2 separate regions of the Homo sapiens genome follow, and region 2 is linked to region 1. Evidence: fine-mapped expression QTL. A gene starts in region 1. The other region holds a variant in brackets. All regions are shown on one strand. Distances are between the middles of the regions.

Region 1 (14,562 bases):
CTGTGGTGTCCAAGAGGGGAAAGGGGTGGGGGGGCCAGGAGGGTGTGCACACACCTCTATTCACGCAGACACTAATCTACACACACGTGAGTTCATGCACGTGTGTGCACACTCCCATATTCAGACACGAATCTACATGCACACACCCGCGAACCTACACACACCCCTGCACAGTCCTCTGTTCACACAAGTGGTAATCTACACGCACACACGTGAACATGCGTGCCTGCTCCCATATTCACTTGGACACCCATCTGCACCCAGAGCCACACGCAAATGAAGATCTGAGAATCCCGTCTCCTGGAGGAAGCCGGGGTGCCGGATACCTGAGGAATGGGCCCTGAGCCCCACTTCTGTGGGCACCCTGAGGGGTTCTGTGCCAAGATGACCCCACTGTTTCATACCAATCCATTCTGGGGGGTTCATCTCCCCAAGAACACAGCTCTGAAATGCTAATGGCTGTCAAAGGGAAGCAGGACTTGCTTCGCACAACCTTCCTCTCCACAGGACGGCCTCCCTCATTTCCTAATGAATATAAATAGGAAAATGGGTTTTGCCTTACAGAATATTTTTCTCTATAGGAATGTAGCTCCAATTTCTAAGCACTGTCAAAACAGAAGTTACATCCTCTCTGTCTCTCCGCTGCCAGCGTCGGCACCCAGTACGGGCTACCCTCATGGCTTTCAGACGTCGGCAGTCCCCTGGGTGGCTCATTCCCTCGTGTGCCCTTAAAAACCCTTTCTCCGTCGACATCAGAGGGATGCTTTAAAGCCAGCCTTGTCTCTCAGCTGCTGCAAACTCCCCAGAGACTTCCCGAAGCAATCCGAGTACCAACCAACTCTTCCCAAGAGCTCCGACACAGGAGCAGCCCGGACCCTGGGGCCTCTCCCGCTCACCTCTCAGCCCCCACGGCCAGCTGCACTGGCCTTGCCCTTCACCCACACGAAGCGTGTCTCGGCTGCGGGGCCATTACACCTGCTCTCCCTTCCCCAGCATCCTCCTTCCCTGTCTCTTTGCACAGCAGGGCACAGAGGGACGCAGGGACCGAACCTGCGCCCCATCCAGGTTCCAGGGCTGCAGGTCTGAGGGCCATGCAGGGCAAGTCAGAAGGGCGGGGGATTCTGCCAGCAGTGGCGGCTCTGCCCTTTCCAGAACTGGTGTCAGCCATTTACACTCCCCACAGCCATCCATCCACCCCCGTCCTCACATGACGGAGGAGAGGCCGAGGCTCCGGGAAGGGAAGGGACCCACCTCAGGTCACGCCGAACACCAGAGGCTCCCCAGCCCGGGCCACCCCATGATCTGCAGCCAAGCCCTTCCACCATTCCACAGGACAGATAGATGCAGGGGTGGTCCCTCAGTGAAGAGGGCAGAGGCCGGGCCCTTCCACAGCTTCCACGGGGCAAACAGACACAGGGGCAGTCTGTCAGTGAGGAGGGCAGAGGCCTCAGTGCAGGCTCCCCTCAGGCAGGGAGACAACAGACTGGGGGTTCCTCTCCAGGGTGCCCTGGAGCCACTACCAGCACCCTTTAGGCAGAGGTAGGCACTTGGCTAATGCCATCTCCCTTGGGATCTGGTCTAGGAACCAGCTGCCACCTTTCCAGACATGTCCGGGAAGCATCCCAGTCCCCCTCCCAGGCAGCCTCCCTCGGTCAGCACTCTGACCAGTGCGGGGGCCAGGCAGGAGCCACAGCACAGCCCAGAGTCCACGCCCAGGAGACACATCCTGAGGGTCCCCAGCCCCTTGGGCTTCTAGGGAGGCCGTGGAGGTCGAGATGGCAGTGAGGGAGCCAAGCGCTGGCCAACCCTTCATGCAGCCCTGGCGGGGCAGCTGTGCTGTGGGTATCTCCGGGACACCTTCCCAGCCACTACTTCGGGCTGTGTCTCGACAGCGCGGGACTGTGAAGGCACACAGCTGTCCTTGACTCGTCCCTCCGGGCCAGCGACGCCTCACTGTGTGCTCTGCAAAGCCCTCTCCCTGCAGGGCCTCCTGCGCACCGGCCGAGGGTCTGGGGAGCCCCCCGACGGCCCCCCCATTTCCAGACCCCGCTCCTCGGCCCCAGGAAGCCGGGCGGGATTCTCATCCATGTGGGGCGGGCACATGGCTGGCTGTGTTTGTATCTGTGTTTATTAAACTAGAGAGAGTTAATGACTAAGAGGTGCCTGAGTTTGATCCTGCTGAAAATAAGACTCGGATCTGTCGGTAAACACGGGGGAGCCTCCAGGCTGTCAATCATCTCCCGGGGTTTCCATCCCAGGAAGGATTCCGCCTGGACCCAACCCAACAGCCTCCAAATGTCAGGGCAGCAATGCCGGGGTGTGCACCTGTCACGTGGACAGACCCCCGCCCCCGAGCCCTCGGCCGCCACCTGGCCACATGTCCAGCGCTGGTGAGAAGCTCTCAGCGCGGTCAGCACTCTGTGACAAGCCCTCTGACAGAAGTTACCACTGGAGTGGGGCGGACAGCAGAGAGATGCGCTTCTGTGGGGTGGGGTCCTAGAGGGGGTAGTGGGCCACAGAGGGCCTGGGGGTGCACAGGGGTGGAATGTGGCTTCCCAGACAAGCTGGTTCACCTCCACGCCGTGGGCTGCCGGGTCCCCGTCGGTAAGGCCAGGGCACTCTCCCAGCTGAGCCCGGATATGAGGTGTGGGGAGCCCAGCATGGGAGCAGGGCTGAGCCCAGATACCACTGCCTGCAAGCCTCAGTGGCTTGCGGCCACTGCCCTGTCTGCGCCTCAGTGTCCCTATCTTTAAAATTCAGAGATTGAATTGGGGGCTCTAGCAAACACAGTGGACCTGGTGATGGCTGGGCTGGCCCGGGCCGAAGGATGTTTCCCGCCCGGCTGTGCCTCCTCTGTCCCCATCCCTCCCTCGGAAGCCCAGAGTGCAGTTTTCCAATATACCCCAGCCTCATGTGGGGGCACTGGGCACAACACACAGGGAGGCAAGGCCCTGTCCCTTCCACCAGTCTCTCCCACTGTGGCTGCCCGAGTCTGTCCTGGAACTGGCAGAGGAAGACATTAGGGCAGACGTCGAGGGCGGGGGGGTCACCGTCCACTGTCATGGCCCCTCTCCCCACCCCCCTCACTGCTCTGGGGGCCTCACACCTTCCCTTCCGCTGCCTCTCCTGCCTGGATGCCTGCCTCTTCCTGTGGGGTTATCTAAACTCTGCCCACCCTATAGGGGCCAGCTAGACCCCTCCTCCTCAGCCCCAAAGAGGAGCTTGGGTCCGGCTCACAGGCGAGGGGAGCCTGGAAGCCGTGAGTCCTGAGGAACTAACTGCTGGGCAGAAGGGAGGCAACCGGGGCTGAGTAACCGAGATCCTGAGACTCCAGGGTCTCCCACCACAGAACAGCCCCAGGAGTCCTAGCCATGTGGGTGGGGAAGAGCTGTGTGGACCAGCCTCCATGGCTCAGTTTCCCCACTGGCTCCTGTGCACCCCCATGGCCCGGAGCAGGGAGCGGAGGAGTGGTCCTCTCTGCCTCAGTTTCCCCACCGGCTCCTGGGCACCCCTCATGGCCCAGAGCAGGGAGCAGAGGAGTGGTCCTCTCTGCCTGACTCAGTTTCCCCACTGGCTCCTGTGCACCCCTCACGGCCCGGAGCAGGGAGCAGAGCAGTGGTCCTCGCCGCCTGACTCAGTTTCCCCACCAGCTCCTGTGTACCCCCGTGGCCTGGAGCAGGGAGCGGAGTAGTCGTCCTCTCTGCCTCCCCTCTGAAGGTCCCTCAAGCCCTGCTGGACCCCCTCCTGCCTCAGCCTGGGTTCCAGCTCTTCTCCAAGACCAAGACCCCAGCTGCCCCAGGACAGCTCTACAGGTGTGGAGGCCTGGTCCAGCCACAGCTCCAGCTTACTTGCTGTGTGACCTCGGGCGATGCTGGACCCTTCTGGAAAATGGACCGGCTGGACCATCTTCAGGGGCTGGACCGGCTGATCTCCGAGGGAAAGGAGGCACATTTATTTGTGAGACCATTGTCTTTCCATCTGGGGATGCCAGCTCCAAGGCAGCCAGGCTCCTCTGGGCTTTGTCCCAGGCTCCAGGTAGGGCACACAGTTGGCCCTTGTCTGCCATCAGCGCTCCCAGGGTGGTCTCTCACCTCCCGCCCTCCCTCCCCAGGAGGCTGGAAGAGGTGGGACAGAACCAGGTCTCAATCCACCAGCCTTGGGAAAGGGACATCCGGGGCAGGGGGCGGGGAGGGGGGGCACGGTGCTGGGCTCGAGTGCCCATAGCTGCCACCCTGCTTCCTGTTTACTGTCGGTGCCACTGACTGGCTCAGGGTGCACAGGGGTGAAGGGAGGCAGCAGCCCCCAACGACCAAGGCCTCCCACCCTGCTGGAATCCCCTGACCTGAACCAACACAACAGGACACAGACGCCAGACATAGGACCCCTCCACCACCCTCTCCGGCCCCACCCCAATCCGGGCCTCAGTCTCCCCATCTGTACAGCTGGTGCTGGAATGGATGGCGCCATCGTCCACTGCAGTGGCTCCACCACCAGCCACCCCCACAAACACCCACCCAAGGCCACTTGACACCTGAGCTTGTGCTGGAAGAAACCAAATCCACAACAAAAACAAAAAGGAAAGAGCGGGGGGGGGCGCTGGAGAGATGACAAATGTATCCAATGTCCGCGGCGGTGCCACCATCCGCTCCAGGTTCACGCCTGGAAATTTATGGCCTCATCACCCAGCCCTGGAGATCTATCTATCTCTCGCCTGTCACTCACTTGCATTTTTAATCCTGCCCCCCGCCCCGCCACCGGCCCCCTCGTGTATTTATGCACCACCCACCCGGGCATCTCGAGGGCCTGCCTGTTTCTTTCTTGTGAAGATATATGAACACCCCAAGTCCATGCACCTCTGCTCATAAATTTCCTCCAATGCGATGGTGTCTGAGTCTGGCACGGAGAAACACAGTCCCCTACCAAAATGGGGAATTGGCTTGTCGGGGGGGAAGGGATCCTGGGGTGGGGGCTCTGACCTCAGGGGGACCTTAGAAGGAGGCTTTCCTGAGTGCTTAGAAAATTCTATCAAAATCTAGAGCTGATGCGTGTGTGTTGGAAACAGATAGAGAAAGTCACCAACATGGGACCCAGGCAGCCACTCCGATTTTACCCCATTGATCTCAGGCACTGTGGTCATATTTTAGTCCCATTAATTTTTCTCTCCTGGAGAGCAGGTGAAGCCTACAAGTATACATTTAGGGTGAAAATATTCAAATGCCGGGGTCCGAGACAGGCAACTACTCCAGGCTCTGGCCCTGGGCGCTTGCTGGGACCCCGGACACCTGTTTCTTGGTGGGGACCGTGGTAGGGAGGTGGAGGAGCAGCAGCCTCTCCCTGGCCCAGGTGTGGGGAGCCTGCCTCCAAAGACACTTTGAAAAATCAGTGCTTTCCAGTGGCAGTCCTGGGGCATGGTGGGGAAGGGACGCCGCCCTCCCTCCCCTCCTCTGGTCCTGGGTGCAGGTGCCCACCACATCCCTGCACCCTTACCCCAGACTTACCAGGCCTCAGGAGTGTGGCTCTGGTTCAGGTGCCCACTGGCTTTTCTGGGAGTCGGGAGCTGCCTGCCGAGCCTGCTGTATCATCCTGAATTATACGCACACAGCAGTCCTGCTGCGGCCGAGGAGGAGGGGGCTGCACAGCTGGCTGTAGGACAGGGGGAGGGGCATGGCCCCCAATCTCTGACTTGGAGACCCCCAGGTCTTCTGCCCACTAGGGGTGGGGATCAGAACTCCCTGACCACCGTATGCCCAGGAAAATGAGGGACCCAAGTGCTGGGGTCCTGGCTGGGCTCCAAACCCCCTCAAATCCAGGTGAGGGGGTGACCCCCTCCCACACACGGCCCCCTGGAGTTTGTCCCCCTGCTTTGGTGGAGTGGGGCGCAAACCTGGGCTGGGACCTGTAAGCCAGTCTTCTCAATGCTTGTTCAATTAAAAGGTGGCAGGGGCAGGGACCCAGGGGGCAGGAGGCCAGGGGGCCAGCCAGGCAGAGAAGAGGAGCATGTTGATGCTTTTCAAGCAACCTATGCCCAACCCAATGGGGTTTCCCCCAAGGCTGGGTGCAAGCTGGACCTCTTTGGAGGCTGGGGGCCTCTCTAGGGGGCAGCCCCTGAGAGAGGCAATATGGGGAGATTTGCCATTTACATCTGCTCCTGGCTCCCGGTCCCTCCACAGCTTCTGTCCCCAGGCTCTCCGCACAGCCCTTAGCCCAATCGAGGGAATGAGCGGCAGAGGCAGCCAGCCCAAGCCAGGGTCCAAAGAGGCCCCACTCCGGGTGTGCAGGAAGGGAAAGTGCTGGCACGGAGGCTTTTTGAGGACGTGCACACCTGGCTCGGCCGGCCTCGACCCTTTCTGCTAAGCCTTCGTTTTTTTCAGAAGGCATGATCATCCTAGCCCCATTTCACAGGTGTGGAAACTGAGGCTCTGAGATTCACCTGCCCCAAGGTCACACAGCTGAGACCTGGAAAAGCCGGATTTTCATCTCAGAGGGTGTCGTTTTTATGGGGGGGGGGGCGGTGTGCGGTACGGCAGGCAGTGCCCCCCGCCCCACCCTCAGCATCAAGCAGGTGACCTGCAGGTTTCAAAGGATGGAAATGGGGGCGCTTGTCTTTAGAGGCAGGTTGGGGCACGGAGGCTTGGCAGCCTCCTCCCAGCCCCCAGAGGGACGAGGACGAGGATGGACTCCAGGTGGGGCGAGGGGTGGAAAGCACCCAGTAAGTTCAGTTCGGAGCGAAGCCCCCCACCCCACCCCCCCGCCAGTGGTTGGACTCAGGGGCTGGGACCGAGGAATGTGACCCCTCCCCGTGCGTGACTGGACGGTCCCCGCGCGGAGCGAGGAGGCTCGCAGCGTCGGGGGGAGGGCGGCCCAGCAGGGAGGGCGATGCGAGCCTGGGGAGGGGTCAGCGACTCGGCCAGGAGGTGAGGACAGCCCCCTAATTTCCGGGAAGGGAAGGGCAGGGGGCCGCGTCTGGGGGGCGCCGGGCAGGGTGCGGACGGCGAAGGGGGACGGAAGGGAGAGAGGCGCTGGGGAAGGGACCTCTCGGAGGCACGGGGCAGCGTGCGGGCTGCGGCAGCGACCCCGACCCGGGCCCCCGGGCTTTGTCGGGCTGAGCCTGCGCCCGCTCCGCCGCCGCCAAGTTCCTCCAACTTTGCCCGCTGCGCTCGGATCGCGCGCCAGGCCTGGGGGCGCAGCAGGGGCTGGGGGCGCACGCTGCGCACTCGGGGACGCCCGGGGTTCGAGGTGGCGGGGGGCTTGGCCGCGCCGCTCCCCGGGGGTGGTCCGGGTCCCAAGTCCCCCAGGTTCAGCGCCCGGCCGCGCTCGCCGCTTACCTGCCCGCCCGGCCTCGGTTCCGGGGCTGCGCCCGCAGCCGCCGCCGTCCTTCAAGCTCTAACTTCGCTCCCGGGATTGAAATTCCTCCCCAGCTTCGCCCATCGATCTGCGCGCGCGGCCCCGCCCCTCGCCGCGCGGCCGGGGGGGAATTCAAGCTCGCCCTGCCCCCTCCCGCCCCCCTTCCCTCCCTCCCTCCCTCCTTCTCTCCCTCCCTCGCTCCCTCGCCCGCCTGCGCGCTCCCTTCCACCCCCTCTTCCTCCGCCGCGAGTCCGGCTCGGAGCCTCTGGCCCTCCCCTTCTCTCCCTGGCCTCCCGAGCCCCCTGCTCTCCTCGGCTCCCCGCGGCAACCCGCTCCTTCCCTCTCCCGGCGACGCGCAGGGGCTGGGGAAGGAGGGGAGGTCCTAGAAAGCGCAGGGGGCGTCCTCGCGGTCCGTCCCCGGCCCTCCCCGCCCACATCTAAAAGGTGGAGGGGGTGGGTGGGTGGGTGGGGGGAGTGGGGGCGACAGCTGTTGGCTGAACAAGCTACCCGCGACTCCCACCACCTCAAGCAAAGCCAAGGCGTTCTCAGGTCCTCCCGTCGGTCCGCCCCTTATCCGGGAGGGCAGGGACCTAGGGGCGGAGAACGCAGGGCGCAGGCCGGGCCTCCTCTGCCCAGCCCTGGCCCCGCTTCCTTCCTTCATTCACCCCAACCTCTGTGAGGACTTCAGGGGGTTCTGGAGCACTCTTCGGCTCAGTTTCACCCTGACAACCTGCCTGTGCGGAAGCCCCCGTCCGCATGTTACAGGAAGGGAAACTGAGTCAAGAGAGGCCCAGAATCTGGCCCTACACAGCGCGTCGAAGGCAGAGCCCCAGGGGCAGCCTGGACCCCCGGCAGGAGCCTCGGGACTCCACGCTCGGGCCGGGCAGGCCCCGGCGGTGCCTGGACAAGCCCGCGTTCGCAGAACGGCCGGCGCCTGGGGACCCTCTCCAGTCCCCGCGCAGCCCGCGCGTCCCCGCCGGCGCCCCCTCCCCGCTTCCTGTCCCCCGCCCGCCTCTGGTTCCCGGCCTCAGTACCCCCGGCACGCTCTCCGCTCGCCGCCAGCAGCTGGGCAATTCAACGAGCATACAAAAGAGTTGACTCAATTCAAAGGCAGCAAATCAAGATAAATCCTATAGTGTGTGGGGACCGGAGAGGGAATGTGAATGAACGCCCACGACGCCGTTCAGTCCTGTATGGACCGGCCTAGCCCGGCTGCAGGGCCTGACACGCCCGGGTCCTAGGGTTCTCCAGGAGCCAGAATCGGAGAGTGGGCTCTGAGCTGCCTTGGCTCCCAGGCCCCCAGCACTGGCCCGAATTTAGTAATTTAGAGCTTGTGGCCTCCTTCGGCTGGCTGGGTGGGGCTCCCGTGATAGGGGTGCAGAGCCTTGAAGGGGAGTGCTAGGACGAAAGCCAGTGCGCCCCCACGATTTCATGCAAATACTGGGGGGCAGGGGCCCTGGAAACCCAGCACAGCCCCAGGGGCCGGCAGGAAGGGCACCGGTGGTTTGGAACACCTAAGCTGTGGCCTTTCTCCCTCTGCCCCGACCTGGACCACGGTCAGAGCCAGGCCGCAGGCCAAGAGCAGGTCCTTGTTTACCCACCAGATAGATACTGCAAGCCTGGGATGTGCCAGGCCTGGGCCTGTGGAACGAGGCCGGCGGTGAGCGGGGCACCCTCTCCTCCCTGCCTGTCTGTGAGGTCTCCCCAGCTGCAGCTCCACTAGGGAGAAGCTGGTCGGCCCCCAGAGCTTCCTTGGTCACGCTTGGAAGGTCCCAGTAAGCTACCCTCCAGCTTCTGGCCTGGCCAGCCTTGTGCAGAAGATGACCACCGGGCTCCGGGCCCCAGCCTATCCACTCCGCCTGCCAAACATAAACCCCAAGAGAGGTACTGGATCCCCATTTCCAGCAGGTTCCCCCAGGCCTGTGCTGGCCAAGTGCAGCCGAAGCTCTGGAATGAGCCTCCTTTGCCTTCGCAGGTGTCCCCCGTGTGCCCTGCGCTGTGCTGGGCGCCTGCCCGGAGGAGCCGCGCCAGGACGTCCTGCTACTTCCCAGGAGCAGGCATGATGAGTCCATTTCCTCGGGGTGCAAACTGAGGCCGAGGGCCTCTTCAGAGCGCCCTTGACCGGTACTGCCTGACCCCAGAGGTCAGTTCTGCGGTCACTCGGGGTCTGAGATCCACGGAGAACCTCAGAGGTCAACTTGAGGGGCGGGTAGGGGTACGCGCGCGGGGCCGTGGGAGGCGAGATCCCGCAACCTGAGGAGCCAGGACCCCAGCAGAGAGCGAAACCTGGAGCTGGGGGAGGGGACGGCAGAGGACTGGAGGCCGGGCTGCACGGCAGGGGTCGAGTCCTCGCGGCCGCCCCCCCCCCCCACCCCGAGCGGAGGCTGCGCCGTCCGGCTGCGACCGAGTCCCCGGAGTCCCGGCCGGGTCGCCCCTCCCCCGTGGCCGCGCCGATTGGCGGCCTGCTGTTACCCGGACGCCGGCGCCGCCGCCGCGAGGACATCTGTCCGGGGCCCAACGCCGCGCTCCACGCCCCCTGCCCCTCCCCCAGACCCAGAACCGGGGAGAGGACGCGGCGGTGAAGCTGGGAGGTTGGAACCTGGAGGGCGGCGGAGTCCCGGAGTTAACGGGGCGGGGGGCGGGGCCGGCGCTGGCCCTGGGGACAAAGATCCCCACGCTGCCTGAGGGCTGGGCTCTGCAGACACCGAGGCAGGAAGAAGGACTCCGTATTCCCCGTCCCCCAGATCCTCAAATCCACTCAGGCTCAGACCTGAGTGTCCAGGTGGGGTGGGGGAGACCGAACCCTCCTGGGCCCTCGAGGCGCGCGAAGGCGACGCTGAAGGGGGGACGCCGGGACGCTGCTTCCTCCCTGCACACGCCGCCCGAGCTGCATCCCTAAACGCTCCAGGAGCTTCGCGGGTCCCCCCTGCCCTCCACAACCCCCGAAGCTGCCCCCAGCGACCTCTCCCCGCCCTCAGATGGGGCCGCAGGGGCGGGCGAATGTGTTGCGCTCGCCGTGGGTTGGGAGGAAGGGCGCGGATTGTAGGAAGTCCCTGCTCCTCCCTGGGCAGCCTGGCCCCGGGGACTCGCGCTCAGCCCGCGGCGGAGGACTCGGTCGGGAATGGTGCTGAGATTGCGCGGGTACGGCCCAGGGCCGTGACCGGGTGGCCACCGTGCAGTTTGGGAAGAGAAAAAGTTCGGGGGGGGGCCGACACCCCGAGATCGAAGAGGGAAAATGGGAGGAAAGCAGGCGGCAGGGAGGGAAGAGCGGCGGAAGAGGGACCAGGAGAGCTGGGGGTCCGCTCTGGGCCCCGGGGTCCCGCCCCACTCGGCAGCCCAGCCCAGCCCAGCCCCGCCGCGCCAGCTTCCCGGACCGGGAGAGGCTAGGGTCACCGACGCCTATTAATAGCCGCGAGCGGGTCCTTCCCGGGAGCTCCGCAGCGGTCGGCAGAGCCCAGCCACCGGCTGGGGTGGGGGCGGGGGTCCCGTAACACCCCCTCCGGAGGTTCAAGCGGCGCGGGGCGGGGCGCTGCGCCCCCCCACGCCGGCTTTGCGAAGTCGAGGCACCCACAGCCCACTCCCTCCCCACCTCCGACTCCGAGACCAGGTTTCAGATGAAGAGGGGTTCGTCTGTGGTTCAACTTGGGGCGCCGCGGCTACCCCAGCGCACTCGAAGGCGCGCCCAGCCCCCTCCCCCTCTTTCTGCCCAGCCGGCTTTTTGCTCTCAGCGCGCTCCGGAAAGTTTCGGGGTCCCCGCGGCGCCTCCCTAGCCCTAGGGGTCCGGAGTCCTGGCCCTTCCAGCCGCGGCGTCGGGGAGGGAAGTTTGTCCGGCCCAGGCTCGGCGGCCGCTAACTTCGGGTGCGCCCGCCTCCGAACCTGGGTGGGTGGATGGGGACGCCCGGGAGCCGCGGGCCCCGAGCGCCGCATCCAGAGCCCCGCGGGCGGGGAGACTCGGCCCTGGCGCGGACGCCGAGGTCAGGGCACCAGGGATGGGGTGGCCCGGGCTGCGAGAGCCGCTGGGGACCCTGCGCTGCCCCCCGCCGCCCCCCCCAGAGAGCATCCTCTTCCCTGCCTCCCCTAGGGGCGGGGACCCTCCGATCCCGCAGCGGCGACAGAGGGGTCCCCCGGCCCCGGACAGCCCCCTGCCCCTCAGGCCCCTTCTTACCTGGGCCGGGGTGCGGGCCCCGGGCTGGAGGCACTGTCGCGGGCGAGCAGAGCGCGCGCACCCCGGTTCCCCGAGCGCGGCGGCGGCGGCGGCGGCTTCCCCTCCTTCCTCCTCCTCTTCCTCCTCCGGGCTCGCTGGCTCCAGACAGCCCTCCTCCCCCTCCCGCCCTGCCGGCCCCTCCCGGAGCCCGCCCGGCTGGACTCGGCCTGCGACCCGGAGCCCAGCGGAGCCGGCGGGAGCCAGGCTGCGGCGCTCACTGCGTCAAGCGCGGGGCGAGCGCGGGGCGGCGGCGGCGGGGACCGCGCGCTCGGAGCCCGGGGCTGGCCGGGCAGGCGGGGGAGCGGCGGCTCCGGCTCCGACTCGGGCTCGGGCGCGGGCGCAGTGGTGGCGGCCGCGGCAGCGCCGAGGTTGTAGCACATTCTTTCTGAGCGTGATGGAAGGTTTCATGTGGGAGAGCGCGCGGGGAGGGATGGGGAGGGGGCGGGGGCCGCGGCGGGGGCGACCGGAGGGGCGGGGGGCGGGGTCGCTGCCCGCACGTCGGTGGGCTGGGGGGTGGCCGGAGGGGGGCTCCGGAGGGGAAGTTGGAGCCAGCCGCGGGGGCGGCGTGGGAAGCCGAGTGGCGGCCTCGCCCCCTCCTCCTGGCCCGCCCCGCTCGCCCCCTGCCCCCGCCCCAGGCCACCCAGAGGCTCCCAGGCTTCGGTTTGGAAGAGAAGCGTCCGAAGGTCTGGGGGTCGGGACCCTGGTGGCGCTGGGAGGTGGGCCCCTGGGTGGGGACACGGCTGTGCTCACAGGCGCCCGGCAACCTCGTGGAAGTTGACCCCAAGTCAGACCCTCTGTGAGCGCGCGCGTCCGCGAGGGCCAAAGCACAGCCCGCAGGACGCGCGTTTGCGGGGCGGGGGGAGAGCGGGGCACTTGGGGGCGGGGAGGTGGAGCGAGAGGGTCGTCGGGCCCCTGGCGGCCCCGCGTCCCCAGAGACTCGCCCTCCCCTAAGGTCGCCGACCCCTCCCTCCCTTCCCTCCCCGTTGCGCGTCGCCCCCCGCCTTTCGGCCGGGAGGAGGGGGAGGCGTGGGAGCGGCCCGGCGCCTTCCGATTCCCGGAAGGTTCGGTTTAGCGGATTTCCCTCTCCCTTCATGTGCCTCCGGAATCCCAGCGGATCCGAAATCGCGCCCTCGGGCTCTGAGCCGAGGGGTCCCCCGTCGCTCCCTGGTGGTCCCGAGCCCTCGCCGAGCGGTCTCACGGCTTCCCAGGGCGTCTCCCGCTCCCACCCGCCCCTTCCCCAGCCTGCGGCTTTCGTGTGGGCTAAAAATTCCAAACCAGGCTCAAGAGCGCCCTCGCCCGGCTAAGCCCCCGCGCGCCGCTTCACAAACCGGCCGCGTGCGGAGCTGCGGAGCCCGGGACCCCCAGCGCGCGCTGGGCGCGACACTCTGGACCCCGCTGCCAGCGCCGCGCCCCTCCGGCCGGGGAGCCCCACACCGTCAAGAGGGCAGGGAGAGGGGAGGGGAGGGGACTACTGGAGGGGAGGGGGCTGCTCCCCGGGTGTCTTTCCCGGAGGAGGTCCCGGGACAGGGGTGGGGGTGGCGCGGGAGGCCGCAGACAGCGCGCCCCGAGGATGGCCGGGCCGGGGATGGGCGCGCGGGGCTCCTGTCCGGACGTGGGTCCAACGGCCTCTCCGCAGCCCAGAAACTCCGTCCAGCCCGCGGGACGGCCGCCCGCCCTCCGACCCCGAGCCTCTACCACACTTGTTCCTGCAGGACGGGGTTGGGGGGACTGAGACCGTGATTGAGGCCGGGGCATGGAGGAAGTGCCGCCGCCTGCTCCCGGGATTGCTGGACACGAAGGGTGGAGGCCAAGGACGGAGCCCCTGCCTGCGGCTGTCCAGCCCTTAGTCCCTGCGCGGGGGCGCCCAGACCTCCAGGGAACAGGGAGACAGAGCGGGCCGAGCCCGGCCTGGGGGGGGTCTCTTCCTGGTCCCTCAGGGAGGGTCCCGGCTGCTCTGAAGCGCGCAGTGGCCTAGGTGCGCACACAGCCCCTTTCTCTCACTTCCCCCCTCCCCTACTCGAGGGGCCTGGAGAGTCCCGGACCTGGCTCCTTGGAGGAAGCTGGGAGAAGGGAGCTGTCCCGCGGACCTTCCAGGGCGCTGAGGAATTTCAGCCCTGACTGACTCCCTCTGCAGCGCCTTCCAATGCTGAAATATGCCCTCCTGTCCCGTGAGAAGGCAGGGCCCCCGCGGGGCCTGGCTGGCCTCGGGCTGCTGTCCCCCCTCAGGCTGGGAATGGGCCACCCCAGGACAGACCCGAAGAGAGGAGGTGGGAGGAAGGCTGGCTGTCTCTGGCCTCTTCTGGAGCTCTCTCTCCCCGCCTCTGTTTGCCTCTGTCAGAGAATATGTTTGTTCTCTCTCTCCCTCTTCCTCTCTCTCTCTCCCTCCACCCTCCTTTTCTGTCTCTTTCCCTCTTCCTCTTCCTCCTCTTCTCCCCTCTCCCTTTCCGCCTCTCCTCTCTCCTTTTCTTTCTCCGTCTTGGTCTCTTTCTCTCTGACATTCATCTCCTCCTGATCCCCCTCCCCCAGCAGACAGAGGTACCCAGAGGCAGCCTGTGTGGTGTAGACACCTTACAGCACATCCAGGGAAGATGCGTGTGGATACCCACCCCAGCTCCCCGCCGCAAGCCGGTGTCCCACAGGAAGATGCCGCAGCCTCACTGGGACAGGAAGGCTGGAACCCCCCCCACCCCATAGCTCACACTGTGGTTGTGCAGAGAGTTGCAAAGGCATCCTGCTTCACACACCCCCGAATCGCACACACCCCGCCCCACCCAGTGTAACCCTCACACGCAGGCACGCACACTGGTGTGGCACTATGACGATCCTTCCTGTGATGGAGGTTCCTAATGGCTGGTGGCTGGCATGAAGTCATTTAGTCCTCACAGCAACCCTAGAAGTGAACCAGCTGTGAAGATCTCCAGTTCCCAGAGGGTAACATCGAGGGGTCCAGAGATCAAGTACCTTGGCCAGGGTCACCATAAACTGGAAATGGCCAAGCCAGGGTTTGAATCCAG
Region 2 (14,562 bases), 220 kb after region 1:
GTGTCTTGGAGCCGGGCCATGGTATACCTGATTTTAATTCTGAGGCTTCAAATAAGAGAAGATTAAACCCTGGAGGATGCCATGTCTCGGAGGTGGGCAACCTGCAGCCCCCATCCCACAGCCTGCAGGTTTGCAGCGGTGGCTGGGGCTGTGTCCCAGTTCCAGCCGTCTCACCATGGGTAGCTGGTCACTTGCTGAGTGGGGGGAAGCTGATGCATTTTTGTCCGGCAAGGACAGGGGTGTCCACCTGCTCAAGCTGCCCTTGCAAGGTCCCCCAAACGGGCGGTTTCAACAACGGAAAGTGTCCTCCCGCAGTTCTGCAGGCCAACGTCCCGGACGGAGGTGTGAGCAGGGCTGGGCCCTCCTGGGGGCAGGAGGGAGGATCTTCCCGGCCTCTCTCCTTGGCTCTGGGGTGGCCGTCTTCGCCCTGTGCCTTCACATCCTCTTCCCCTGTCAGTTTGTATCTGCATCCACATTTCCCTTTTATGAGGACACCAGCCATGGGACCAGGGCTCCCCGCAAAGAACCCTGTTTGAATTCTCTTATCTCCAAAGGAGGCAAAATGAATTCTCACCTCCAGAAAGACCCTGTCTCCAAATAAGGTCACGTGGTGGAATTGGAGGTTAGGGCTCCAATGTGTCATTTTCTTGGGGGGCTCCTGGAGACACGAGTGGGGTCTCCACCTGGCGATGTTGGTGGGGCTTGCGAGACGGTTCTGGCGGCGATTTCTGCCAGCATCGGGCCCCTGAGCTCAGCTGCTCAGGGGCCCCGGGGGTGTGAGCTCGGGGACAGCAAGGTGCATCTGGGGAGGGCCTGGCGGGTGCATCGGGCGGAGTGTGGGAAAAGCTGTTCTGTGCCGGGAGAGTGGAGCCATGGTCTGGAGGCTGGAGGGCCGGCCCTGGGGAAGGAGCTTGGGGCAGGATGGGTGGTGGCTGTGGGACCGGCCGGGGTGGTGCAGCCCAGTTGAATAGGCCTCAAACGCCCCGAATGCAGCTTGAACCTCATCCTGAGGCCGCGATGCTTGAACTCGCAGCCCAGACCTGTGCCGTGTGGGCACTGGCTCTGGTGTGTCCAGAGGGCCTGGGGTGCTCTGATCTGCCTGGAGCTCTGAGAGCCTGACTGTGGGTCTGGGGGTGAGATGGCCCTGCAGGGAAACCCACTGGACAGAGCCGCTGCTGGCCCCTGGGGTGGACGGAAACAAGTGCGGGAGGCAGACAGCCTCCTCCTCCTGCTTGTTTAGAGAAAAAACAGACTTGTGACACTGCCCTCCCGGCCGTCCGGGCATTCTTTCCGGGGACATGGCCGCTTTGGTCAGTGACCCTAGGGAAGGTCTGCAGAAGAGCTTGAGCTTTCAAAGGGCTGGGGGCGGGGAGAGAGGGAGGGAGAGCCGGCTCCTAAGCCCTGGGGGCTGAGGCTGACGCCCAGCATGGCTGCAGAGTCCCTGGGCATAGACAGCCACCCACGTGCCCTCGGGTCACACCCTCTCGGGGGACAAGCCCAGGCAGACAGAGGCATCGGCCCAGGCCCGAGCAGACGGAAACCGCTTTCGCTGCCACTGAGCCCAGGGAGGGGGCTCCTCGTCATCTGTCCACACGGAGAGGAGTCCGCGCCCCATCTTGTCCGGCGTGCAGAAGCTCCGCCTGTGCAGACGGGTGGTCCTGCCGTCTGAAACCTGTTACCTGGGAGGGGGTCCAAGCTGGAAACGGTGGAGGGTTCCCAAGGATCCCAGCAGATTGATGGACGGCAGGGCTGCAGGCGGACGGGGCGGGGGCTTCCTAAGGAGAGAGGTGGGCAGCCTGCAGCCCCCATCCCACTGCCCCCACCCCACCGTGTGGCTGCTGCCTGGCCTCAGTTTCCCCATCTGTGAAACAGGTGAAATGGGCTCACTGTCCGGGCCTCGGAGCATTCTTATGGGGGTCAGGGCCTGGCAAGGGCTGTGCAGGCTGGGCTCAGAACTAGGCCGCCCAGGCTGCGTGGCCACAGGGGTCTCGGCCCCCACTTCTCCGTTTGAGACCTGCCCAGCCTTCCTGTTTGCTGCAGCTACGGCCGTCAGATTCGCCACCAGGAGCTGCGGTTGTCCTCCCAGACAGGGAGACTGAGGCCCTGAGACCGAGGCTGGCCGGGGTCAGACATGCAGGCCGGGGTGAGGCAGGACACGGCTTGCAGCCCCAGCTCCCTCTGTGGGGCCAGGAAGCTTCTAGAACAGTCCAGTTCACGCTGACATGGCAGCAGCTGCTGTCCGGGACCCCACAGGCAGCAACGTGGACAGACGGGTCACGATCACTATATTTTTGTTTTTCTGAGACGGGGTCTCAGTGTGTTACCCAGGCTGATCTCGAATTCCTGGGCTCAAGCAATCCTTCTGCCTTGGCCTCCTGAGTAGCTGGGACTACAGGTGTGAGCCACTGCACCCGGCTTCCAGATCATGATTTAACCAACCCTCCCTCCCAGAAGCCGCAGCCCGTGCTGGGAGCCTGGTGGTTTTTGTCGGAGGGCCTGGGGCTGGGCTGGGGCCTCCTGGGATCTTGGTGTGTTTTCTGCCCAGGGTATCCTCCCAAGGTGCCCATCAGGAGTCCCAGGACCAGCTGGAGGTCACGTGGGGCTGTCCTCTTGGCGTCCCCAGAAGGGCCCTGCTGTCCAGGCTGGCCGGGGACCTCACCTCGGGAACTTCCCGGGACCCTTGCATCCCTGTGGTGTAGTGTGCGAGTCAGGGGTGAGGCTGGGCCCTCGCTGAGCACCTGGGAAGGCACTCCACCACCCAAAGAGAGAACCATGTAACCTCAGTGGGCTTGGCAGCTGTCTCCCCGCTGTGTGACCTGGGGCAGGTCCCCGAGCCGCTGTCTCTGTGAGATGCAGACATAACCGGTGTCTGCTCCACAGGTCGGGTGTGAGCCTTAGGTTGGTATTTGTGAAGCGCTGAGAAGGACACCCTTCACTGCAGGGTGAACAGAAGTCACCCTTCCAACAACAGAAGCGATGATGTGTGGGACGAGGTGGATCCGGGGCCTGTCCTGCCCTCGGGGGCAGCGTGGCTGGCCCTCTCTGCATATGGTGCCGTCCCCTGCCCTGGGAGCCTCTCTCCTCCGTTCCCTGTGGTCCTCTGGGGGCATCAGGCCTCTGCGACCCACCTGGTCACCAAGCGTTGTGATGGGAAGAGCCCCCTCCGAGCTGAGCTGTGCTGAACCGCCCTGGGCTGGTGACCTCACCTCCCAGGCCTGCTTCCTGCCACCTCTGACTGTGGCAGGAGCACTGGTGAGGGGCGGCCTGTCAGGGTACAGGAGGTGAAGCTGGGGCCGTCTGATGTCGTACTACGGTCCCAGCAGCATCACCGTGGCCGGAGCAGGGCCGGGAGCCCTGGCCTCTGCCCACCTGTGGTCCTGTGCCACCTCATTCCTTCACAGCCCCCCATCCTGGCCTCGGTTTCTCTGTTTGGGCAAGATGACCTCTGAGGCCCTCCAGCCCCTCCCTTCGTGGACTCTGAGCTGCTTTGGACATCATGTTTTTATCTTCCAGAAACTTCAGTGCTCTCAAGAAGGAAAATATTTATGAAAACAATAAACTGGTGAGTGGCCCCCGCCCCGGCCTCACAGCTGGCTTAGCCAGCCTGCTGAGCCCCACCCACGTCCGAGGGACCGAGGGACTCCCCCCAGGCCCTGCACCTGCCTTGGGAGTCCTGCCTGGGAATCGGGGGCTCCCTGACCAGCCCGGCAACGCGTCCTGGGCTGGGTGACCCTAGCGTTCTAGAAATAGCCTCTTATCTTGGCACCCAGGGCATACTGGTCCCCTCTTTTCCTGAGCTGGGGAGCAAGGTGCCAGGAGGTGGCTGGGGACCCTACTTCACTGCAAGGGGGCTCAGCCCAGTCTGCCTCAGGCAGAACAAGGGTCTGGGGGTGGCTGTGGGGGGCTGTGGATGGGTCCCAGTGGGCCTGCTGCCACTCCCACCACATGGGACCTGCCTTCCGGCCCTGCCAGGATTCCAGTCCTGCCCTGCTCACCCCAGCTTCCAGGCCCTTCCCTGTGTGCAGCCTCAGTTTGCCTGCTGCAGAATAAGCACCACGCTCCCTCGTGGGCAGAGGCACCGGCAGACTCACCACGCGCCCTGCAGGCATGTCCTGTGCTGTGCCAGGCAGGCCCCGGCCACGTCCCTGCCCCCGGAGCTGGCCTTCAGCGGGGACAGTGGTCAGCACTGAAGACAGTCATACCTGCCCGGCCGGCACTGCCCTGCTCAGCACGGGGACAATTTGAACTTAAGCTTTAACTTAATTAAAATGAACTAAAATTACAAGTTCATGGTGAAACCTCGTCTCTACTAAAAATACCAAAAATTAGTGGGGCGTGGTGGTGCGCACCTGTAATCCCAGCTATTCAGGAGGCTGAGGCAGGAGAATTGCTTGAATCCGGAAGGTGGAGGTTGCAGTGAGCTGACGCTGCGCTCCAGCCTGGACAACAGAGTGAGACTCTGTCTCCAAAAACATAATAATAAATAAAAATAAATAAATAAACAAGTCCAGTTCCTCAAGTGTGCCGGCCACACTTCCCATGCTCACAGCCATGCCTGGCCGGCGGCTGCTGGGCTGGACGGCGTGGGCTGTCGAGTCCCTGTCTCAGCCTCTAGCGGCCCTCACCTGTTGCCTGGGAGCCCTGACATGGCGACCTGTGTGTCCCTTCTGGCCCCCGGGGAGGGCTCAGCAATGTCAGCCCTGCCTCTGGAGGGAGCTGTTTCAAGACTGCGTAAGTCTGGGTTGGGTGGGGCCTGGGATTCTCCCGGTGAAGGGTAGGATCCCCTGAGGTTTCACCTGGACGGGGCCTTGAGCGCCCACCGGCCTGGTGACCTCAGTCCTGTGCAGATGGGACCGTGATCCCCGCTGCAATGATGGGTAAGCTGAGGCCGGGAGGCCACGCGAGCAGAACTCAGCTCCGGCCTCCAACCCACGCCTCTTTGGGCTCCAAGACTGTGTCTTTGAGTCGAGGTGAGCTGCGGCCTGGTGGAGAAGGAGGGGGCTCCCAGCTGCCCCGCTGACCCCCTCCCACCTTTCGCAGGCCTTCCGCGTGGCCGAGGAGCACTTGGGCATCCCAGCCTTGCTGGATGCCGAGGACATGGTGGCCTTGAAGGTGCCTGACCGGCTGAGCATCTTGACCTACGTGTCCCAGTATTACAACTACTTCCACGGCCGCTCCCCCAGTGAGTCCCTGCCGCGCCCGCCGAGCCAGGCAGGACCAGGCCCCCCATCCTTGGCCTGGCTCCCAGGCCTGTGGACTTTTTGGGGTCCATGCCCAGCCCCCCCCCCAAGAATGGCCCCTGGCATGGGCACCGGGGCTGTGCACTGGCTGTGAAGCAGCAAGAGGCCTTGGTGGGCGCCCCATCCCCAACCCCGGCCCCATGCAAAGCCCCAGGCTGTGTCTTCACCAAGAGGGACCGGGGCCCTCATCCTGCTGCAGGAGAGCTGCCCCCGCTGCTTCCCCAAGGTGCCAGGTGCACCAGCAGCTCCTGCCGCCCTGCCCCTCATGGGCCTCAGTTTGCCCATCTGGACCCCTGAGCTTCTGTGCCCACTGGGGTGGCTTGGCTGACCAGGGGCAGCTCCTGGGCCTACCTTCATCTGTCCTGATTTTGGACCCTATGGAAGCCAGGCTGGCCTGGCAGGGTGGGGCCCCCGGATAGAACTGGGCAGGGGAGGGACAGGCCCGGCCTTTGTGTGTGTAGAGCTCAGCTCCCCACCCCCCCACCCCCACATTCCTCTTCTAGGGTTTAGAAATCCCCAGAACCATTCCGGGCACAGGGCCTGCCCTGCCTGCTGGAGAAACAGAAAAGTCCCTTTTCCCTGACTCCAGCTGGGGCTCTGAGTGGGGAGGGAAGGAGTGGGGACCGACCCGGGGCTGTGCCAGAAAAAGTGCCCTCAGGGTTACCTCTCCCCAGCCCTGGGCCCCCAGGTCCCCCCCGGGCACCAAGGCCTGTGCTGGGCACTGGGACCTCTGGAGGGACTAGACCCTTTCAGAGCCAGGCCTGGGACCCTCCCGATCCCTGCTTGATTCCTCCAGTTGGGGGCATGGCAGGCGTGAAGAGGGCCTCGGAGGACTCTGAGGAGGAGCCGTCAGGGAAGAAGGCTCCAGTCCAGGCGGCCAAGCTGCCCTCGCCCGCCCCAGCCCGGAAGCCTCCACTATCTCCAGCCCAGACAAACCCTGTGGTCCAGAGGAGGAATGAGGGTGCAGGGGGCCCGCCCCCCAAGACTGTAAGCTCCCACCCCACCCTCCCCCTGGTTCTCTGGGTTTTCCACCGGGGGGTGCAGAAGGGGCTTGTGGGACTACGTGCGGCCCCTAAGCCACGGGACCCAGAGTGGGGTGCGGCTCCCCCAGTCCAGGGCTCAGCCTTAGCAAGAGCCGCCAGGACCGGGCTCTCCAGGGCTCCATCAAGCCAGGGGTTGTGATCCCACTTTGTACAGATGGGAGAGCACAAAGGTGGGACAGAGCTTGAACCTAGATGGGCCCAGGATACCTCTCTCCCGGGGAGAGAAGGGTTGCTGGGCTATGCCCTGTACCCAAGGCCGGCTCTGCAGAGTGAACCCAGGCACCCCCACTTCTCAGAAGCGGAGTTGGGGTGGAAGGCGGTGGGCAAATATCTGGTGGTTGGCAGCCCCTGCTATGCCTGGACTGCCACTCCAGGCTCCCGGGATGGTGGGAATTGGATGGGATCCATGCCCCTAATGGGGCAGGAGGAGGCCTGGAATCTGTCCCCTGGCCCCCAGCCACCGAAGGACCACTAGCATCGGGCCTCAGCTCTCTCCCCAGGGCTGGGCTAGAGGCCCTGGACTGGGGCTGCCACCCACCTGGGTGTGACCCCGACCGCAGCCCTGCTGGCGGCTCCTCTCCTGGCCAGTTCTCCATCTGTAAGATGGGCTCTTCCGGCCACCTGTGGGCTGCCACCAGGAGGGAGGGCTGGGTGGACGGCTGCTCAGAGAGGTGCTGGCATCTTCCCCAGGACCAGGCATTGGCGGGCAGCTTGGTCAGCAGCACCTGCGGGGTCTGCGGCAAGCACGTGCACCTGGTACAGCGGCACCTGGCCGACGGGAGGCTTTACCACCGGAGCTGCTTCAGGTGGGGCTGCCCTCTGCCCGCACGCCTGAGTGTGCACCTCCCCTCCCAGAACCCTCCCACAGCTCCCATCGCCTCCCACCCGGCCTCCTCCTCCCCGCTCCTCGTTCCTCTCCCCTCTCCCCTCTCCCCTCCTCCCCCCTCCCCCTCCCCGTCTCCCCTCCTCCCGCCTCCTCCCCTCTCCTCCCCTTCTCCCTCTTCTCCCTTTCACTTTCCTTCCCATCCTCCCTTCCTTCTCCTCTCTATCCTCCCCCTCCTCCCCCCTCCTCTCCCTCTTCACTCTTCTCTCCCTAATGGTCCGCCTCCTCCCCCTTTTTCCCCCTCCTCCCCCCTTCTCTTCCTCCTCCCCCCTCCTCTCCCTCCTCCCCCCTCCTCTCCCTCTTCACTCTTCTCTCCCTACTGCTCCGCCTCCTCCCCCTTTTTCCCCCTCCTCCCCCCTTCTCTCCCTCCTCCCCCCTCCTCTCCCTCCTCCCCCCTCCTCTCCCTCCTCCCCCCTCCTCTCCCTCCTCCCCCCTCCTCTCCCTCTTCACTCTTCTCTCCCTACTGCTCCGCCTCCTCACCCTCTTCCCCACCCCCCGCTCTGTTGCTGATAGCCCAAGATGTTCTACTGTTCCCAGACACCCAGGACCTGATGCCCCTCACTAAGCCCCAGTGTCCCCCAGTGCCCCCGTCCAGATGCCTCCTCCAGTGCCCCCGTCAAGATGCCCTCCCGACTGTCCTTCCACACACACTGCCTCAGTCTCCCTTCTGTGCCTCAGCCCTTCCCACTGGTGTTGTACTCAGTGGCCATCCCCAGCCCCTTGCTGCCACCCTGCACCCCGGGTGGGGGCTCCTAGGAAACAAGCGCTGTTCCCCCTACTTCTGTCCCCAGCTCTGCAAGGCTGGGGTGGGCCGGTCCTCCCAGTTCCATCCCCCACGCTGTGAGGCCAGGGTGGGTCAGCCCCGAGGTGGGGCCTGGGGTGGCCTGTGGGTGTGTGTCTGCTGACCTGCACAAGCACCCTCTGGGGTTTGCACCCCAAACGAGGTTTTTGGTGGGGTTTGTGATGTAAGTGGTTAAGGACCCTGAGAAGAGGCGTTTGTTGAATGAATCAGCGACCTCGTGAGTGGAACACAGGAGTCCGCAATGCCTGCTCTCAGGAGCACGTGGTGAATGCGTGGCGGGGCGGGCGTTCAGCAACCTCGCAAGTGGACACAGGAGTCCGCAATGCCTGCTATCAGGAGCACGTGGTGAATGCGTGGCGGGGTGGGCGGTGCCGAGCTGGGGCTCCTGTGCCTTTCCTCCCCCAGGTGTAAGCAGTGCTCCTGCACGCTGCACTCGGGGGCCTACAAGGCCACAGGAGAGCCGGGCACCTTCGTCTGCACCAGCCACCTCCCCGCAGCCGCCTCTGCAAGCCCCAAGTTGACGGGTCTGGTCCCCCGACAGCCAGGGGCCATGGGTGTGGATTCCAGGACCTCCTGTTCCCCACAGAAGGCCCAGGAGGCAAACAAGGCCAGACCGTCGGCCTGGGAGCCTGCTGCGGGCAACTCGCCTGCCAGGGCTTCCGTTCCAGCTGCACCCAACCCTGCAGCCACCAGCGCCACGTCCGTCCACGTGAGGAGCCCAGCCAGGCCCTCTGAGAGCCGCCTGGCCCCCACTCCCACGGAGGGGAAAGTCCGCCCTCGTGTGACCAATAGCTCCCCGATGGGCTGGTCGTCAGCTGCCCCGTGCACAGCAGCGGCTGCCTCCCATCCCGCCGTGCCCCCGAGTGCCCCAGACCCTCGCCCGGCCACACCCCAGGGTGGGGGAGCCCCCCGAGTGGCAGCTCCTCAAACCACACTCAGTTCAAGCTCCACATCTGCAGCCACGGTGGACCCCCCAGCCTGGACCCCGTCCGCCTCCAGGACCCAGCAGGCCCGGAATAAGTTTTTCCAAACATCAGCAGTGCCCCCCGGCACCAGCCTTTCTGGCAGAGGTCCCACCCCGTCACTTGTTCTATCCAAGGACAGCAGCAAGGAGCAGGCGCGGAACTTCCTCAAGCAGGCCCTCTCAGCGCTGGAAGAGGCTGGCGCTCCGGCGCCTGGCAGGTGAGCGCGTGGGGACCGAGGGACCCCGGGTATGGCCTCTTTGCACCAGCCAGCGGGGCCCCGGAGGCCAGAGGGGTTGGGGGCGCTGCACCTCCCTGGCTGTGTGGCCTTGGGGACTGCACTTCCCCCAGCCTGTTTCCTTCTCTGGGGAATGGGGAGGAGGAGCCAGGGTGGCAGTGCCTGTGGTCAGGGTGGTGGAAGCCGGGTCCTTATGGAAAAGCTGCTGTCCGCATGTGCTCGGGGCGTCATGGGTGCGGTGGCGCTGCCGCTCCGGGGCCCCCTGTGCTGCACTCCCTTGGAACCCAAGGGTCCTACGCCCATTTCATGGACGCGGGGACAGGTCGCGAGCGGGACCCACGCTGGCGGGTCTGAGTGGACGCGGGGACAGGCCGCGAGCGGGACCCACGCTGGCGGGTCTGAGTGGACGCGGGGACAGGTCGCGAGCGGGACCCACGCTGGCGGGTCTGAGTGGACGCGGGGACAGGTCGCGAGCGGGACCCACGCTGGCGGGTCTGAGTGGACGCGGGGACAGGTCGCGAGCGGGACCCACGCTGGCGGGTCTGAGTGGACGCGGGGACAGGT[C/T]GCGAGCGGGACCCACGCTGGCGGGTCTGAGTGGACGCGGGGACAGGTCGCGAGCGGGACCCACGCTGGCTGGGCTGAGCATCACCTTGTCTGACTGAGTCCAGCCAGGCCCTGACCTTCCATGCCTGGGCCCGGCGCCTGCCTGTGCCTGGACCCTGAGCAGATGACGTGGACGGGTAGAGGGGGGCGCTGCATCAGTTTCCAAAGACCCCCTCACTGGGCGGCTTACACAGTAGAAATCCACCCCCTCACAGCTCTGCAGGCCAGAAGTCTGACCTTGAGGCGGGGGAAGGGCCGCGTCCCCTTGCAGGGCACTAGGGGTGGACCTGTCCTTGTCTCTTCCAGCTCCCAGCGGCTCTGAGCGTTCTTGGCTTGTGGTCGCCTCCCTCCAGTCTCTGCCTCCGTTTCCATGTGGCCTTCTCTCTGTCTGTCTTCTCCTCTTCTGTCTCTTCTAAGGACATGGTTGTTGGACTAGGGTCCACCCTAACCCAGCGTGAGTGCATCTTAACATGATCATAACTGCCAAGATGGTTTACAGATAAGGTCACACTCTGAGCTTCCCAGTGGACATGACTTTTAGGGGTCACCATTCGACCAAGTACAGTCACTTAGCGAGTAAGAATGCTTGTCGCAGCCTGGCTGACAACGCCGTTTCCTGCCCCGTATCGTGGGGTGCAGGCGTCCCCTGCTCAGAACTGCCTCCTGCCCCCGCAGTGGTCAGCAGGGGGTGCTCAGAGCCTCCGGGGTGGTCACAGACAGGAGAAGAGCGAGTTCGCTCTGCTCCTCCTGGCACTGGGGGGTGTCCAGGGCATCCTAGGGACTGAGGATGAGTGGCGGGGGTGCTCCAGGGAGTGCTTCCTAGGTGGTGGGGCGGGGGGCATGTGTGGCTGGGGAGGACCCCAGCTCCTCTGGGGAAGCTGGCCTGGCACACCTGAGCCCAGTGTAAAGGGAAAGGGGGGAGGGAAACTGGTTGTCGAGGGGGGTGGGGACATGGAGGCACTGGCTCGGGGGTGGGGAGGCACCTGGTGCCCCCACCTCAGGCTCTGGCAGCCTCACTCCTGGTGTGTGCCTGAGGGAAGGCAGGAAGGCACGGAGGCCTTGTGTCTGGCCCTGTGTCTGTGTGTCTGGCGGGGCCAGAGAGACTGTGTCACATGGGACTGAACCTGGCAGCCCAGGCCGGCCCAGCCTCTGACAAAGCCCCAGGTGCCTCCAGCCTGGGTGGGTGGTGTGTTTAGGGGGTGGATATTTTAATCTCAGCCAACACTGGATTTCACAGGGGAGGAGAATCAACCACAGCATATGCTCATGCCAGAAACAGGTGTCTGTGGCCTGTGCCTTGCCAGGGTGGTCATTGGGAGCGAGCTGCAGGGAGGCAGAGGGGCAGCCTGGTGCAATGGTGGGGGAGGCGGAGGGGTGGCCTGGCGCAATGGTGGGGGAGGTGGAGGGTGGCCTGGGGTGATGGTGGGAGTCCGTCCGGAGGCTGGGCATTGGGAGTGAGCTGCAGGGAGGCAGAGGGGCGGCCTCGGGTGATGGTGGGAGGGCGCCTGGATCCAGCTGTGCCTGATGCCTGCGCTTTTACTTATAGGCCCTCCCCAGCCACTGCCGCTGTTCCCAGTTCTCAGCCCAAAACTGAAGCACCACAAGCAAGTCCCTTAGCCAAGCCGTTACAGTCCTCGTCTCCCCGGGTGCTTGGCCTCCCTTCGAGGATGGAACCGCCAGCCCCGCTGAGCACGAGCAGTACCTCTCAGGCATCCGCGTTGCCCCCGGCAGGCAGGAGGAACTTGGCGGAATCCTCAGGGGTCGGCAGGGTGGGTGCTGGCTCCAGGCCGAAGCCAGAGGCCCCGATGGCAAAGGGTAAAAGCACCACCTTAACGCAGGGTGAGTAAGGGGCTGGGAGGCAGGAGGCCCCGGGGGCCCGCAGCTCTGGGACTCTCCCCTGGCCGCACTCTGCAGTGTGTGCGGTTTCATCATCAGCCCCGCCCGCCTTCCTCTCCGTCTCATCTCTGTCCTCCGTGACACCTGCTCGCAGCCTCCTGGGGTCCTGGTGCGCTCTCTGTGTGGTGGCTGCAAATGTCCTCAGGGCTATGCTGTTTGCCGGCACCCAGCCCACCCCATCCGCACGTCCTGCAGGTGCCTGCAGCCCAGCCCTGCAGCGTCCCGCTCAGCTCGGTCTGGCAGTTACATCCTGTGGCTAGCAGTGGCCTGGCTTGGCCGTGGTCTGTGGGGCCTCCTGTTCTCCCGTGGTGTTTTGCGCTTCCTGCCTGTCGCTTTGACAACGTCGCGCTGTTGCTGTGGCACCCTGTGTCACCACATACCGGAGATGGTGCCCTATGCCCCGTCCCCCCTGTGGTGTCCCGGTGACGGTGCCCTATGCCCCGTCCCCTCCGCTGGTGTCCCAGTATGCCCTGTCCCCCTGGTGGTGTCCAGGTGAGAGCGCCCTGTGCTCCGTCCCCCCCGGTGGTGGTCTGGTGACGATGCCCTATGACCTGAGGGCTCTGGTGCCTCCTAGGCTGGGAGCTCTTCCTGGGGGCTCCCTGGACCACACAGTCCTGTTTTATGGCCTCACGTGTTTTCGGGAACAGGGAGCGAGCTTTCTTCTAGGCAACTGGCTGTCACCCACCAGGGGTTAGCCCCCTGGGTGATCATGGCCAGGCTGGGCAGGACGTGGGCTTAGGGCTTGTGAGGCCAACCCTGTGCCAGCTGGGAGGCCCAGGGCACTGGGATGGCCAGGCTACGCAGTGAGCTGTCAGCTGTGCCAGGACAGACCCCAGGCTCCTGGCGGCCCTGCTTTGATGCACGGCTCTGTCTCCCAACCTGGGGGCAGCCGAGTCCCCCCGCCTCGCCCCACTGCAGGAAACTGGCTGTCCCTGCCACCTGGGTGTGTGTAGAAAAAAGCTAGAGGTTCCCATGGCTTTATCGAGCTGGGCTCAGGGAACAAGCTGGGCTGCAAAGGGTTTTTCCAGATCCTTCTCTTTGGCTGAGTTCTCATTGTTAAAGCCACGCGCTGGATCCTGCAGGACCCAGGAGCCAAGAAAGCCTGCAGACGGGCAGCCGTGGCTCAGGTGTTCCCCTTGCACAGGTGGACAGAGGATCAGGGTCCACGGGGCTCACCCTGCCACGTCCCCACCCATTCGGCAGAAGGGGAAGTTGAGGCCCAGAGGCAGGGAGAGCTTCCCCCAGGGACACACAGCACAGGAGAGCCAGCTGGGAGCCCCTCCCCTGACTCCCTGCCCGGTGCTCCTGATGCCCCCCGGCCGGCTGGCTGTGGGGGTGTCTGAGGGTGGAGTGGCTATGGGAAGATGGCAGGGGGAGGCACAGCCACCCTTGCAGACACCCCATTCCCAGCACTCCTTCCTCACACCCAGACCCCTTGCCTCCCACCCAGACATGAGCACCAGCCTCCAGGAAGGCCAGGAGGACGGGCCGGCAGGATGGAGAGCGAATCTGAAGCCCGTGGACAGGAGAAGCCCAGCTGAGAGGTTAGGGATGGGTGGGGCTGGCCCAGGGCCTGGTACACCATAGGTGCTTAATAAATGCAGTGAGTATGTAATCGACCGATTGACACGCCTATCCAGGGATAGACGCACCTCCCTGTGAGTAGCAGAGGCCAGGTCACCCCTGCCTGAGGGACATGGGGGCCGCTGTCCCTGGTTTGGGGGCAGCGTTGCGTGTCTCACCTGGGCATGGCAGCACCCGTGTGGGTTCACGCACCATGCCTGCAGCTGGGGTGGAGTCTCCCCATGTGTGGGTCCCGTGGGGCCCGGAGCTCACGCCTGGAATCTGCTTCGCACCACGGCAGGTAGCGATGGACACGTGTGTTTGCAGGAGGGTCCCAGCAGGTGTAGTCAGTGGGCTGGGAGGTGGCATTTGCTCAGAAGGCCACCTGCTCCCTCCGGCTGGTCTGCATATGGCCTGGGAGCCCCTCCAGGTGGGCCAGGCCCTGGGGCTGGTGGTTCGGGTTCCGACCTCATGCCTTCTGCCCAGGACTCTGAAGCCCAAGGAACCACGGGCCCTGGCAGAGCCGAGGGCGGGGGAGGCCCCCAGGAAGGTCTCAGGCAGCTTTGCTGGGAGTGTCCACATCACCCTGACCCCCGTGAGGCCTGACAGGACCCCACGCCCAGCCAGCCCAGGACCCAGCCTCCCAGGTACTCCTGGACGGGACCCAGGGGCCCCCGGGTTGCCTAGCTGGCCCTCCCCCTTGGGTGGGGGCCCCGGGACTGGACCTGTAGTGCCACCTCCTGGGGTGTGCGGAGAGGCGCTCCGGTCAGCCAGAGAAGCTGGTAGTCCTGGGCAGGCTTGTGTGTACATGTGTGCATGTGTGTGATGCATGTGTGCATGTGTTCATGTATGTGATGCCTGTATCCATGCGTGATGCATGTGTGCGCATGTGTACATCTGTGTTCATGTGTGTGATGCATGTGCACGTGATGCATGTCCATGTGTCTGTTCATGTATGTGATGTGTGATGCATGTGTATTCATGTGTACATCAGTGTTCATGCGTGTGATGCATGTGTACATGTGTGATGCGTGTCCATGTGTCTGTGTTCGTGTATGTGATGCATGTGTGCCCACACGTGATGCATGTGTCCATGTGTACATCTGTGTTCATGTGCGATGCATGTGTGTCCATGTGTACATCTGTGTGATGCATGTGTGTGCAACCGTGTTCATGTATGTGGTGCATGTACCCATGTGTGGATCTGTTTCATGAATGTGATGCATGTGTGTCCACGTGTGCACCCGTGTTCGTGTGTGATGCGTGTGTGTGCACACACATCTCTGTGTGTATTCCTAGCACTCATAGCTGCCCTGGATCCATATCCAGCTC

Direction of the effects. Positions count from the first base shown, and alleles are read on the strand shown. Sizes are in standard deviations (SD) of each study's normalised expression.
For the expression in unexposed skin of the gene that starts at base 7,403 in region 1, T is the low allele of the variant in region 2 and C is the other (moderate effect, 0.53 SD a copy in GTEx).

The links. PIP is the estimated chance that this variant, and not a neighbour inherited with it, causes the effect.
Region 2: its variant is the best candidate, but not a certain one, in a credible set for the expression of ELFN1 in unexposed skin (GTEx, PIP 0.90).

What each region holds. Positions count from the first base shown.
Region 1 is chr7:1,663,118-1,677,679 of GRCh38, reverse strand. ELFN1 (extracellular leucine rich repeat and fibronectin type III domain containing 1) reads right to left here and starts at 7,403. Exons shown (of 4, transcript NM_001128636.4): 1 at 7,326-7,403. RefSeq lists enhancers at 5,851-6,557, 6,558-7,264, 7,265-7,971, 7,972-8,679.
Region 2 is chr7:1,439,240-1,453,801 of GRCh38, reverse strand. It overlaps MICALL2 (MICAL like 2), which reads left to right. Exons shown (of 17, transcript NM_182924.4): 2 at 3,514-3,562; 3 at 5,041-5,182; 4 at 6,037-6,227; 5 at 6,974-7,089; 6 at 8,374-9,150; 7 at 11,318-11,610; 8 at 13,118-13,211; 9 at 13,717-13,877. Among named protein-coding and RNA genes, the nearest start is that of MICALL2, 13 kb to the left of the region's middle. RefSeq lists enhancers at 1,438-1,989, 6,445-6,949. The variant C/T (reference allele first, on the strand shown) is at 9,733.